2 separate regions of the Homo sapiens genome follow, and region 2 is linked to region 1. The links come from fine-mapping of genetic effects on gene expression. Tissue or cell type: thyroid. Region 1 holds a variant in brackets; the other region holds the start of a gene. All regions are shown on one strand. Distances are between the middles of the regions.

Evidence for each region. PIP is the estimated chance that this variant, and not a neighbour inherited with it, causes the effect. A credible set is the group of variants that fine-mapping cannot tell apart.
Region 2: it holds the start of LINC01226, and the variant in region 1 is the best candidate, but not a certain one, in a credible set for the expression of LINC01226 in thyroid (GTEx, PIP 0.81).

Annotation. Positions count from the first base shown.
Region 1 is chr1:31,555,752-31,561,681 of GRCh38, forward strand. All of the region lies in intron 2 of LOC124903917 (a long non-coding RNA gene), which reads left to right. Among named protein-coding and RNA genes, the nearest start is that of TINAGL1, 18 kb to the right of the region's middle. The variant A/G (reference allele first, on the strand shown) is at 2,376.
Region 2 is chr1:31,514,965-31,520,894 of GRCh38, forward strand. It overlaps LINC01226 (long intergenic non-protein coding RNA 1226), which reads left to right and starts at 3,471. Exons shown (of 3, transcript NR_027085.1): 1 at 3,471-3,872.

The DNA of each region.
Region 1 (5,930 bases):
TTAAACCAGCCTGGCCAACATGGTGAAACTCCGTCTCTATTAAAAATACAACAATTAGCTGGGCGTGGTGGTGGGCACCTGTAATCCCAGCTACTTGGGAGGCTGAGGCAGGAGAATCATTTGAACCCGGGAAACGGAGGTTGCAGTGAGCCAAGATCACACCACTGCCACTGCACTCCAGCCTGGGCGACAGGGCGAGACTCTGTCTCAAAAAAAAAATTTTGTTAAAATCTCCAGTGGTGGCTGCATATTTGTCTATTTTTCCTTTCAGTCTCAATAATTCTTACTTTGTATATTTTTAAGCTGTGTTATTTGGTGCACACAAGTTTAGAATTGTTATATTTTCCTGCTGGAAAAATCTGTTATCATTATTTAATGTCCATCTTACCTCTAGTAATACTGTTTGTCTTAAGCCTATTTTATTTGATATTAATGTAGTAATACCAACTTATTAAAAATTAGTATTTAAATGGTATATACTTTTTCATCTTTTTGTTTCACCTTTCTGTGTTTTTACATTAAAATTGTGTTGCTTAAAAATAAAATGTAATTGGGGTTTTAAACAAAAATCCATTCTAACAATATGTGTCTTTCTGTTTGTTTACATCATGTACATTTAATGTAATTACTGATATAGTTGGATTTAGAGCTACCATCTTTCTATTTGTTTTTCTGTCTTATTTGCTCTTTGTTCATTTATTCCTTCATTATTTTCTTCTTTTGGATAATCAAGTTGTTTTCACTATTTCAGTTTTTCCTCTATTAGGTTCTATTCATACGTTTTTACAAAAAGTTTTAACTTTAGATATTTAAATATGCATCTTTGACCTATTACAGATATATTGTCATATTAAATTAATGTTTCCCATGGTTTTAACAGTGCAAGAACTGGCCGGGTGTGGTGCCTCACACCTGTAATCCCAGCACTTTGGACTTTGGGAGGCTGAGGCAGGCATATCACTTGAGGTCAGGAGTTTGAGACCAGCCTGGCCCACAGGGTGAAACCCCGCCTCTACTAAAAATATGAAAATTAGCCGGAGGATGTGCTCATTTGAATCAAGGAGGAGGCAGTTGCAGTGAGCTGAGATCGTGCCACTGCACTCCAGCCTGGCTGACAATAAGACTGTGTCTCAAAAAAAAAAAGAAAGAAAGAAAAAGAAAACAATGCAAGAACTTTACAACTGTTCAACTCCATTTACCTGCCTTCCACCCTATGTGCTATTATTGTGTATTTTACTACCTGTTATAAGCCCTACAAGGCGTTCCTATTATTATTTTATTAGTTAATTATTTCATTTTTGTCCATATATTTGTCCTTTTTGGTGCCCTGTATTACTTCCAGAAGATTTGTGCTTAAAAAAAAGAAATTACTCCCCTCTTTTCTGACAATTTTTTTTTTTAAGTGACCAGGCTCTTGCTATGTTGTTTAGACTGGTCTTGAGTTCCTGGCCTCAAGCGATCCTCCGACCTCAGCCCTACAAGTAGCTGGGATTACAGGCGTGCGCCACCACGCCAGGCTTTGTAAAGTTTGTGCTTTCATCTGAGATCATTTTACTTCAGCATGAAGAAATTTCCTTTAATATTTCTTGTAACATTATTAAGGTTTGTTAGCAATGCACTTTCTCAGCCTTTTCTTTGTATATAAATGTCTTTGTTTTACCTTAATCCTTTTTTTTTTTTTTTTTTTTTTTTTTGAGATGGAGTCTCGCCCTGTTGCCCAGGCTGCTCTGCCTCCCGGGTTCACGCCATTCTCCTGCCTCAGCCTCCCGAGTAGCTGGGACTACAGGCACCCGCCACCACACCTGGCTATTTTTTTCTTTCTTTTTTTTTTTTTTTTTTTTTTTTTTGTATTTTTAGTACAGATGCGGTTTCACTGTGTTAGCCAGGATGGTCTCCGTCTCCTGACCTTGTGATCCGCCCGCCTCGGCCTCCCAAAGTGCTGGGATTACAGGCGTGAGCCACCGCACACGGCCTGTTTTACCTTAAATCTTACGCATTTTTTTTTCAGTATAGAATTCTAGGTTAGCAGGGTTTTTGTTTTTTTCTTTTTTCTGAACTTAAAAAATTACCTTTTGGATTCTATAGTGTCTGTTGAAATGTAGGCATCACGTAGCTTATCTAGCTGCTTTTAAGGTTTTCTCTTTGTCTTCGTTTCCAGCTGTTAACAATGATATGCTTGTGTGCTTTTCTTTTTTTTTTTTTTTTTTTTTTTTTTTTTTTTTTTTGAGACGGAGTCTCGCTCTGTCGCCCAGGCCGGACTGCGGACTGAAGTGGCGCAATCTCGGCTCACTGCAAGCTCCGCTTCCCGGGTTCACGCCATTCTCCTGCCTCAGCCTCCCGAGTAGCTGGGACTACAGGCGCCCGCCACCGCGCCC[A/G]GCTAATTTTTTGTATTTTTAGTAGAGACGGGGTTTCACCTTGTTAGCCAGGATGGTCTCGATCTCCTGACCTCATGATCCACCCGCCTCGGCCTCCCAAAGTGCTGGGATTACAGGCGTGAGCCACCGCGCCCGGCCGCTTGTGTGCTTTTCTTTGTTTTTATCCTACCTGGATTTACTAAGCTTCTTAAATTTAAGGGTTGATATATTTCAACAGTTTTGGGAAATTATCAGCCATATTACTTCAAATATTGCTTCTTCCTCAGTTTTTTCTTGCCTTCTGGAAGTACAGTTACACAAATGTTAGATCTACTAACTATGTCCCACAAATCTTACGCTCTGTTCCTTCTTCTATTTTTTTTTCTGTGTTTCTGGCTTGGATATTTTTTGTTGACCTGTCTTCGTTTGCTAACCCTGTCCTTTGTCCTTCTGCTAAACACATTCAATAAATTCTTAATTTCAGATGTTGTATTTTTCAGTCCTAGAACATTTTATTTTTGAAAGATATCCCACTTCCTCTGCTGACAATCTCTATTTTTATCTACTTTGCCAATCTTTTCATCTATTTTATTTAACATATTAATTGGTTATCTTACATTTTTTTGTCTGCTAACTCCAGTATGTGGGGCACTGTGGTTCCGATACTACTATCTATTTTTTCTCTTAACAGTCACATTTTTCTGTAGGTCTAGAAATTTCCAACACATGATATGGTTAAAACTGTAAATTATCCCAATATGGTGAGTGTGTAGTGATATCTTTTTGTGGTCTTAATTTGTACTCTGATTACTAGTGATGTTAAGCATCTTTTCATATGTTTATTCATAATTTGGTTTTCCTTTTTGTTAAATGCCTGTTCAAGTATTTTGTTCAACATTTGATTTGGTTATCTTTTTTCTCATTGATTTTCAGTTGTATATAAGTCGATATATCTTCCTGATGACTTGATCCATTTATTATTATTACTATTATTACAGTTTCTGGAAACAGGGTCTCACTCTGTTGTCCTGGCTGGAGTGTAGTAATGCGATCCATGGCTCACTGCAGCCTCCACTTCCTGGGCTCCAGTGATCCTCCTACTTCAGCCTCCCGAGTAGCTGGGGCTACAGGCATGCACCACCATGCCCAGTTAATTTTTGTATTTTTTGTAGAGATGCGATTTAGCCATGTTGCCCAGGCTGGTCTCGAACTCTTGGGCTCAAGGGATCTGCTCACCTTTGCCTCCCAAAGTGCTAGGATTCCAGGCATGAGCCACTGTGCTCAGCCCCATTTATTATTATACAGTGATCTTCTCTATTCCTAATAGTACTTCTCGCCTTAAAGTCCATTTTGTCTGATATTAATTTTTGTTGTTGTTGTTGTTGTTGTTTTTAGTAGATCTCACCCAAAAAAAAACTTCTGCTTTCTTCGACTAATTTGGAAATTACACTGTCTGTTTTACTCATTATCCAGTAACCTAGAAGTTATAATCTGAACATTTAACTTGTTCAAGTCTAGAGTTAATTGATACATTTACTCCAAGACAATGTAAAGAACTTACAACAGTTTAATTCCATTTTAACCACTATTATTAACGTTTTATACAATCGAGTTTCATTTAGATTTGCCATGTATTTGCCATTTGAATTCTCTTCATTCTTTCTAGCATTTTTGACCTTCAATTTGAGCTTTTTTTTCTTTCTACTCCAAGTCCATTGGTGACATACACTTACAGCTTTTGTTTGTCTGAAAATGTCTTTATTTCATATTCATTCTTAAAGGATGTTTTCACTGGGTATAGAATTCTTGGCCTGCAATTATTTTCTTTTTGCACATTGAAGATGATCTTTCTGCTATCCTCTGTCTTTTAATGTTGCTCTTGAGAAGTTAGCTCTCAGCTTACCTTGCTCTGTTGAAGATAATCTGACATTTTTTCCTGGCAGTTTTTAAGATATTCTCTTTGTCTTTGGTATTCTGCTATTTCACCACATATGTCTAGGTGCAAATTCTTTTTGAATTAATAGACTTCATTTTTTTTTAGAGCAGTTTTAGGTTCACAGCAAAATCAAGTAGAGAGTAGAGTTGGCCAGATGCAGTGGTCCATGCCTGTAATCCCAGCCAAGGCAGGAGGATCGCTTAATCCCAGAATTCGAGACCAGCCTAGGCAACATGGCAAACCCCATCTCTACAAAAAAATACAAAAATTAGTAGCCAGACCTGGTGGTGCACGTCTGTAGTCCCAGCTACTAGGAAGGCTATTAGAAGGATCATTTGAGCCTAGGAGGTCGAGGCTGCAGTGAGCTGTGATTGCACCATTGCACTCCATCCTGGGCGATGGAGTGAGACCCTGTCTCAAAATTAAAAAAAAGAAAAAAGAAAAAGAAAAAAAACCAAAGTACAGAGAGTTTCCACATGCCCCTCCCTCGTTTTCCACACACAGCCCCCCTTAACATCAACATCCTCCATGGGTGTTGTACATTTGTTACAATCAATAAACCAACATTATCGTTATCGACCAAAGTCCATAGTTTACATTAGGGTTCACTCTTTGTATTGTAAATTCTATGGGTTTTGACAAACTTATAATGAAATGTATATACTATTACAGCATCATACAAAATAGTTTCACTGTTCTAAAAATTTCCTGTTCTAATCTATTCATCCTCTCTCACCCCAAACCCCTGGCAGCCACTGATCTTTTTACTGTCTCCATGGCCTTGTCTTTTCCAGAATGTTACATAGTTGGAATCATACACTATGTAAGCTTTTCTAGGTGTAAATTAATTTTTTTTTTTTAGAGGAATCTCGCTCTGTCGCCAGGCTGGGGTGCAATGGTGCGATCTCAGCTCACTGCAACCTCCGCCTCCCGGGTTCAAGCGATTCTCCTGCCTCAGCCTCCCAAGTAGCTGGGTCTACAGGCATGCACCACCAAGCCTGGCTAATTTTTGTATTTTTACTAGAGACGGGTTTCACCATGTTGGCCAGGCTGGTTTTGATCTCCTGACCTCGTGATCTGCCCGCCTTGGCCTCCCAAAGTGCTGGGATTACAGGCGTGAGCCACCACACTCAGCAAATTAAAAAAAAATTTTATCTGGCCAGGCAAAGTGGCTCATGCCTGTAATCCCAGCACTTTGGAAGGCCAAGGCAGGTGGATAACCTGAGGTCAGGAGTTCAAGACCAGCCTGGCCAACATGGTGAAACCCCTTCTCTACAAAAATACAAAAATTAGCCGGGCATGATGGCGGATACCTGTAATCCCAGCTACTTGGGAGGCTGAGGCGGGAGAATCGCTTGAACCCAGGAGGTGGAGGTTGTAGTGAGTCGAGATCACGCCACTACACTCCAGCCTGGGCAACAGAGCGAGACTCCGTCTCAAAAAAAAATTTTTTTTTATCCCACTTGGGATTTGTTGGGCTTTTTGAATCTGTAGATTAATGGCTTTGATCAGTTCTGGGAGATTTTCAGCCACTGACGTTTCCAATATCACGTTTTCATTAGTCTCTCTCTTCTCTCCTGAAGTTCCAGTTACAAGAGTGTTAGATCCATTTCTCATTTATTCTTCGTGTCTTTTACTAT
Region 2 (5,930 bases), 41 kb before region 1:
CAGCATCAGCCTCCGATCTCCAGGCCCCTGCGGTGAGGGCCCCAATGCCCCTGATAAGGCTCTGCTCCTAAAGGGCTGTTGGCCTTGAACAAGCTGCTCTCCTGCCTCAGTTTCCACTTCAGGATGGAGACATGAATGAGAGAAGTGTCCCTGAAACTCCTGATGGCTTTCCATTTCCTGGTTTCCTGTCTTTCCTGAGGCTGAATTCTTCGCCTGCTTTCTCTGAGATCCCTCACTTTCCTGCCAAGAAATTTCCTCTTTAGTCTGTTCAGAGTGAAGTGCAAATCAAAATAAAAAAGTGCAAGTTCAAAGTGCAATCAAAACAAACAAACAAACTTTGGCTAAGGCAAAACCAAACCAAAACAAAACAACCCAACTATCTCTTTTAGTAGAGTTTTGACGCTGCAGCATGTGTTGAATAGAGCCCATGTGAGTTAGGCTGCCCAGGGCCTGAGTGACATTGCGTACTGTGGGGAGTGTGTGCTTTTGTTCAAGCGGTGGCTCTCAGGAAGCCAGGAGGAGATTTGGACAAAAGTTGGAAAGGTTGGAAGAATATGTAAGCTTGGACTGACATGGCTGATTGGGTTTGGGCCAGTTTGAGCTGGTTTTATCTGGTTGGATCCAATACAGTACGGACTCGGGAGGCCAAGGAAGGTCTTGGCAAGTTTGGACCAGTTTTTGCCATTTGAGCTGACTTGGGCTGGCTTGAGCTGGTTGCTCATCACAGTGGCAAAAAAGAAGAACCCTTGGGCAGGGGTGTTCAGGGTCAGGAGTGGAGGAAGGGAAGCTATGCTCATTGTTCGTGGCACTTGGTAGAGCTGTGCATCTTTACAAAAGCAATTTACAGTACAGGCACCCCTCATTTTCTTGCACTTGCTTTGTTGCACCTGCAGATATTTGTTGTGTTTTTGTTTTGTTTTGTTTTGTTTTACAAATTGAATATTTTGGCAAAAGTTTGTGGCAACCCCTTGTTGAGCAAGTGTACTGACACCTTTTTCCCTAAAGCATGTGCTCACTTTGTGTCTCTGTGTCATGTTTTGGTAATTTTTACAATATTTCAAACTCACTCTTTTCTTTCTTTTTTTCTGTCTCTCTTTCTTTCTTTTCCTTCCTTCCTTCCTCCTTTCTCCTTTCCTTTCCTTTCCTTTCCTTTCCTTTCCTTTCCTTTCCCTTTCGGGTCTAGCTTTGTTACCCAGGCTGCAGTATGGTGATGCAATCTTGGCTCACCCCAACCTCTGCCCAGGTTCAACTGATTCTCGTGTCTTTGCCTCCCAAGTAGCTGGGACAACAGGTGCAAGGCACCACGCCCAGGTAATTTTTTTTTTTTTTTTGTATTTTTATTAGAGATGGGGTTTCGCCATGTTGGCCAGGCTGGTCTCGAACTCCTGACCTCAAGCGATCTGCCCATTTCAGTCTCCCAAAGTGCTGGGATTACAGGTGTGCGCCACCACACCCAGCCCAAACTTTTTCATTTCTACTGTATCTGTTATGGTGATCTGTGATCACTCATGTTTGATGTTTCTATTGTAATTGTTTTGGGGTGCCACAAATTGCACCCATATAAGACAGAGAACTTAAGAAATATTGCATGTGTTCTAACTACTACATCAATCAGTGGTTCCTCTACTCCTCTCTCCTTCTCCTCAGGCCTCTCAATTCCCTGAGACCCAACAATATTAAAATTAGGCCAATGAATAACCCTAAAATGGTCTCTACATGTTTAAGTGAAAATGTCACACATCCCTTGCTCTAAATCAAAAGCTAGAAATATTAAACTTAGTGAGGTAAGTGTATTGAAAGCCAAAATAGGCCGAAAGGTAGGCCTCTTATACCTAACAGCGTAGTTGTGACTGCAAAGGAAAAGTTATCCTCAGCCTTTCATGTGTATTGGCTTATTCAGTCCTCATAACAACCCTACCAAGTAGCATGTGTTAGCCTCACCATTTGGCAGAGGAAAATGGAAGCACAGAAAGGTCAAGTACTTGCCCAGATCAGCAGCAGAACAGGCTCAAAGGTTGGCAGTCTGGTTGCAGAGTCCATGAACTTCACTACCACACTCCACAGCAGTTGTGAGACCATGGGCAAGCCATCTAAACTTTTGAACTTTAATATCTTCATCCATAAAATGGGGACGATAATACCCTGCCCCATTGCCCAGTGAGTGTGTACACCCTTAACTCGGTGCATAGGCTTGGGTTGGCTTGATCCGGTCTCATTCATTTCTCCCCACCTGACCCTACACTTGAGTCAGAGTATCTCATGTTGGCTGAGCTTGAAGTATGCAGGAGCACACCCCAGAAAGGCCAGGGCACAAGCCCTGCTTGGGGTGGAGCAGGGAGGGCCTGCTCTGCCCCACTGGGGTGTTCTTAGGTGGAAGTGGGTGTGGGATGGTCCCTCTGGGAGAACTCTCTCCCTCCAGCCTCCCTGCAGAGTCACCCAGGGAACTGAATCACAGCACAAGTGAAATGGGAAAAGTTCCCTTATCCCCCTCGCAGGGCCTGCAATGGGGGTGTGGCTCGCTTCTTTGGTACCCTGCTGCTCAAACCTCTAGGGGGAGCATGCAGATGGGCAGGTTGTGGGGCTTCAACCCCACGGCAGTGTCTAGGGGTGAATGCTTACAGTTCCTGAAGCCCCAATGGGTGTGTGTTACAGAGCGCTCTTTTAGTTTTGCTATCTGTAGGCAGCTTGTGTTAATCAGCTCGATTAGATCCTCTGCCTTATCACAAGGACAGAGGGCTTTCTGTATCCCAGGGTTTTTGCCTTGGTGTACTGGAGGAATCAGATCACACGTGGGCTTAGGGACCGAGTGCAAGTTTTTATTGAGTGGAAGTAGCTCTCAGCAGATGGGGGAGCCAGAAGGGAGATGGAGTGGGAAGGTGAACTATCAAGATAAAATCAGTCTACTACTCCATAACAGAGGTAAGGAAGAGTATGCATGGAATACAGGACATCCTTTAGAGCATCTCTTAGTATTACCATGCCCTTTGATTAAGGTCAATGGGAAACTACAATAGCGCAATCCAGGCAGGACTACAAATAGCCCAGACCCCTCAGGAATGAAGGTTTGGGTCACTCCACCAGGAAAAAAACCACAACCTGCTGAGGTGCTTGCTGAAGGCAAAGGGAATACAGAATGGGTAGTAGAAGAAGGTAATCATCAATACCACCTATGACCATGTGACCAGCTGCAGAAATGCGGACTGTAACTATCATGAGTATTTCCTCCTTCTTTGGCTAAAAACATGTTTGTGCATGTATACACTTGTACGAAGAAAATATATCCATTTTATTTCCTTTTCCTTTATCATGTGACATAAGATTTACTGACTTCATATCAACATTTAAGTATTATTAACTTTATGTAATAATATTTGGGTTGGGGATTGGTGGGTTTCCAGTTGTACCAAGGATAGTTGTATTATTTTAGGCATAATTATGACCTTATTATTGTCTTTATTTGAAGATTATGTATGATCTCAGGAGATGTGTATGGGTTCAGCTTGACAAGGGGTGGACTTACCATGGTTAATACTGAGTGTCAACTTGATTGGATTAAAGATGCAAAGTATTGATCCTGGGTGTGTCTGTGAGGGTGTTGCCAAAGAAGATTAACATTTGGGTCAGCGGGCTGGAGAAGGCAGACCCACCCTTAATCTGGTGGGCACCATCTAATCAGCTGCCAGCGAATATACAGCAGGAAGAAAAAGGTGAAAAGGCAAGACTGGCCTAGCCTCCCAGCCTACATCTTTCTCCCATGCTGGATGCTTCCTGCCCTTGAACATCAGACTCCAAGTTCTTCAGTTTTGAGACTTGGACTGGCTCTCCTTGCTCCTCAAGCTTGCAGACAGCCTATTGTGGGACCTTGTGATCATGTAAGTTAATACTTAATAAACTCCCTTATATATATATATATATCCTATTAGTTCTGTCCATCTAGAGAACCCTAACACAAGTGTTTTCTTCATTTTCCTTCATATTTATGAAGTGTGCTTTCTTGCCATCCTTTCCAGACTCATCACCTTATGTTATTAGTTGACTTTTTAAAAATCATTATTATTATTTGAGATGGAGTCTCGCTCTGTCACCCAGACTGGAGTGCAGTGGTGTGATCTTGGCTCACTGCAACCTCCATCTCCCCAGTTCAGCCGATTCTCGCGCCTTAGCCTCCTGAGTAGCTGGGACTGCAGGTGTGGGCCACCACGCCTGGCTAATTTTTGTGTTTTTAATAGAGATAGGGTTTCACCGTGTTGGCCAGGCTGGTCTCAAACTCCTGACTTCAAGTGATCTGGCTGCCTTAGCCTCCCAAATCGCTGGGATTACAGGCATGAGCCACTGTGCCCAGCCTCTAACTCTCTTTTAACATAAATTAATTCCTCTTCCTATATTTGTTCTCAGTGCTATTGACTTCCTGAAGAAACTGTGTCAATTCTCATGTAGAGTTTTTACACTAGGGATACAGTCACTTGCTTCTTTATACTTCATGGGATACCTTGTAAGTCTCCAGTGCATCACACCTGGAGGCATATGATGTCTGCTGGTCTTGCTTTTAATGATGCTAAGATCTATCTTTAGGTTCAGGCAATGGCAACCTTACCCTTCACTGAGAAGTTCTCCATCAACCTTTCACTGAGTGATTTTGGCATCCATTGAAAACCATTGCTTGAATCAGTTATTTTCTTAGGGGCTTAAAAAATGATAATTTTCTGATTCTAATTTTTTCTTCATGTAGTAGCTGAAATTCTTCTGCATAGAAGAGCTTTCCTTCATTCATTTTGGCTATTTAATTACCAGAAAATGCAGTTAGGCATAAAAAATGCTTAATTCTTTTCCTTTAATTAACAATTTTTAGAGTAATAAGTTGGTGCCCCAACTTCCCCAACGGTGCCCAGTAACTTTTATTTTCTTTCTGTATCTTCTTTTCTTCTCCTGCTCTTTTTCATCTGCTGGCTAGAAGTAGGGTACTTCAATACCCTAGGAGATGGCAAGACCTCATGAAGGAAGTTGCCTGGGTCCCTGAATGACTACATGGAGCTAATTCCTTCCTGTGACTTGGGGAAGAATGGGACTGTGATGGGAACAAGAAATGAGCTTTCTTAGTCACAACCCACTGAGATTGTGATGGTTTGTTACAGCATTGACCCTATCCTGACCAAACAGCTATTACATTTTTATTCTTTTTTATTTTTTTTTTAAATTCTTTTTGAGACAGAGTTTAGCTCTTGTTGCCCAGGCTGGAATGCAATGGTATGATATCGGCTCACTGCAACCTCCGCTTCCCAAGTTCAAGCAATTCTTCTGCCTCAGCCTCCCAAGTAGCTGAGATTTCAGGCGCCCCCCACCAGGCCCAACTAATTTTTTGTATTTTTAGTAGAGACCGGTTTCACCATGTTGTCCAGACTGGTCTTGAACTTCTGGCCTCAGGTGATCCACCTGCCTTGGCGTCCCAAAGTGTTGGGATTACAGGCGTGAGCCACTGCGCCTGGCCTACATTTTTAATTTCTAAGAGCTCTTTCTTGTTCTCTGATTGTTTCTTTTCCATAGCATAGTGTTCTTGTTTTATGCATATCTCTTCTGTTTCTGATGATGTTTAACTCTTAATGACACATTCTTCTGTTCTGTGCATTTTTTTCTGCCTCTCCTGACTTCCTTTTTATTGTTTGTGGGTTTTGCTCTCAATTTCAACTAAAACTAGTTTAACATTTATTTGGAGGAGGAACAACATTATGTGGAGGAAGGTTTAGAAAAAGGAAGGTTTCTTTTGACAGTCCTTGGCTTCTCTTTCCTGTCCTAAACAATTCAGCTGTGGTCCACATTTGCTCACCCTAATTACTAGCAAAGCAAGAGCCTAATATTTACCCAGACAGAATCTTCTAGGAAGGCAATCAACTCCCAGCCATTATGATTGAGGCATGCCTCTTAGAGAACTCACT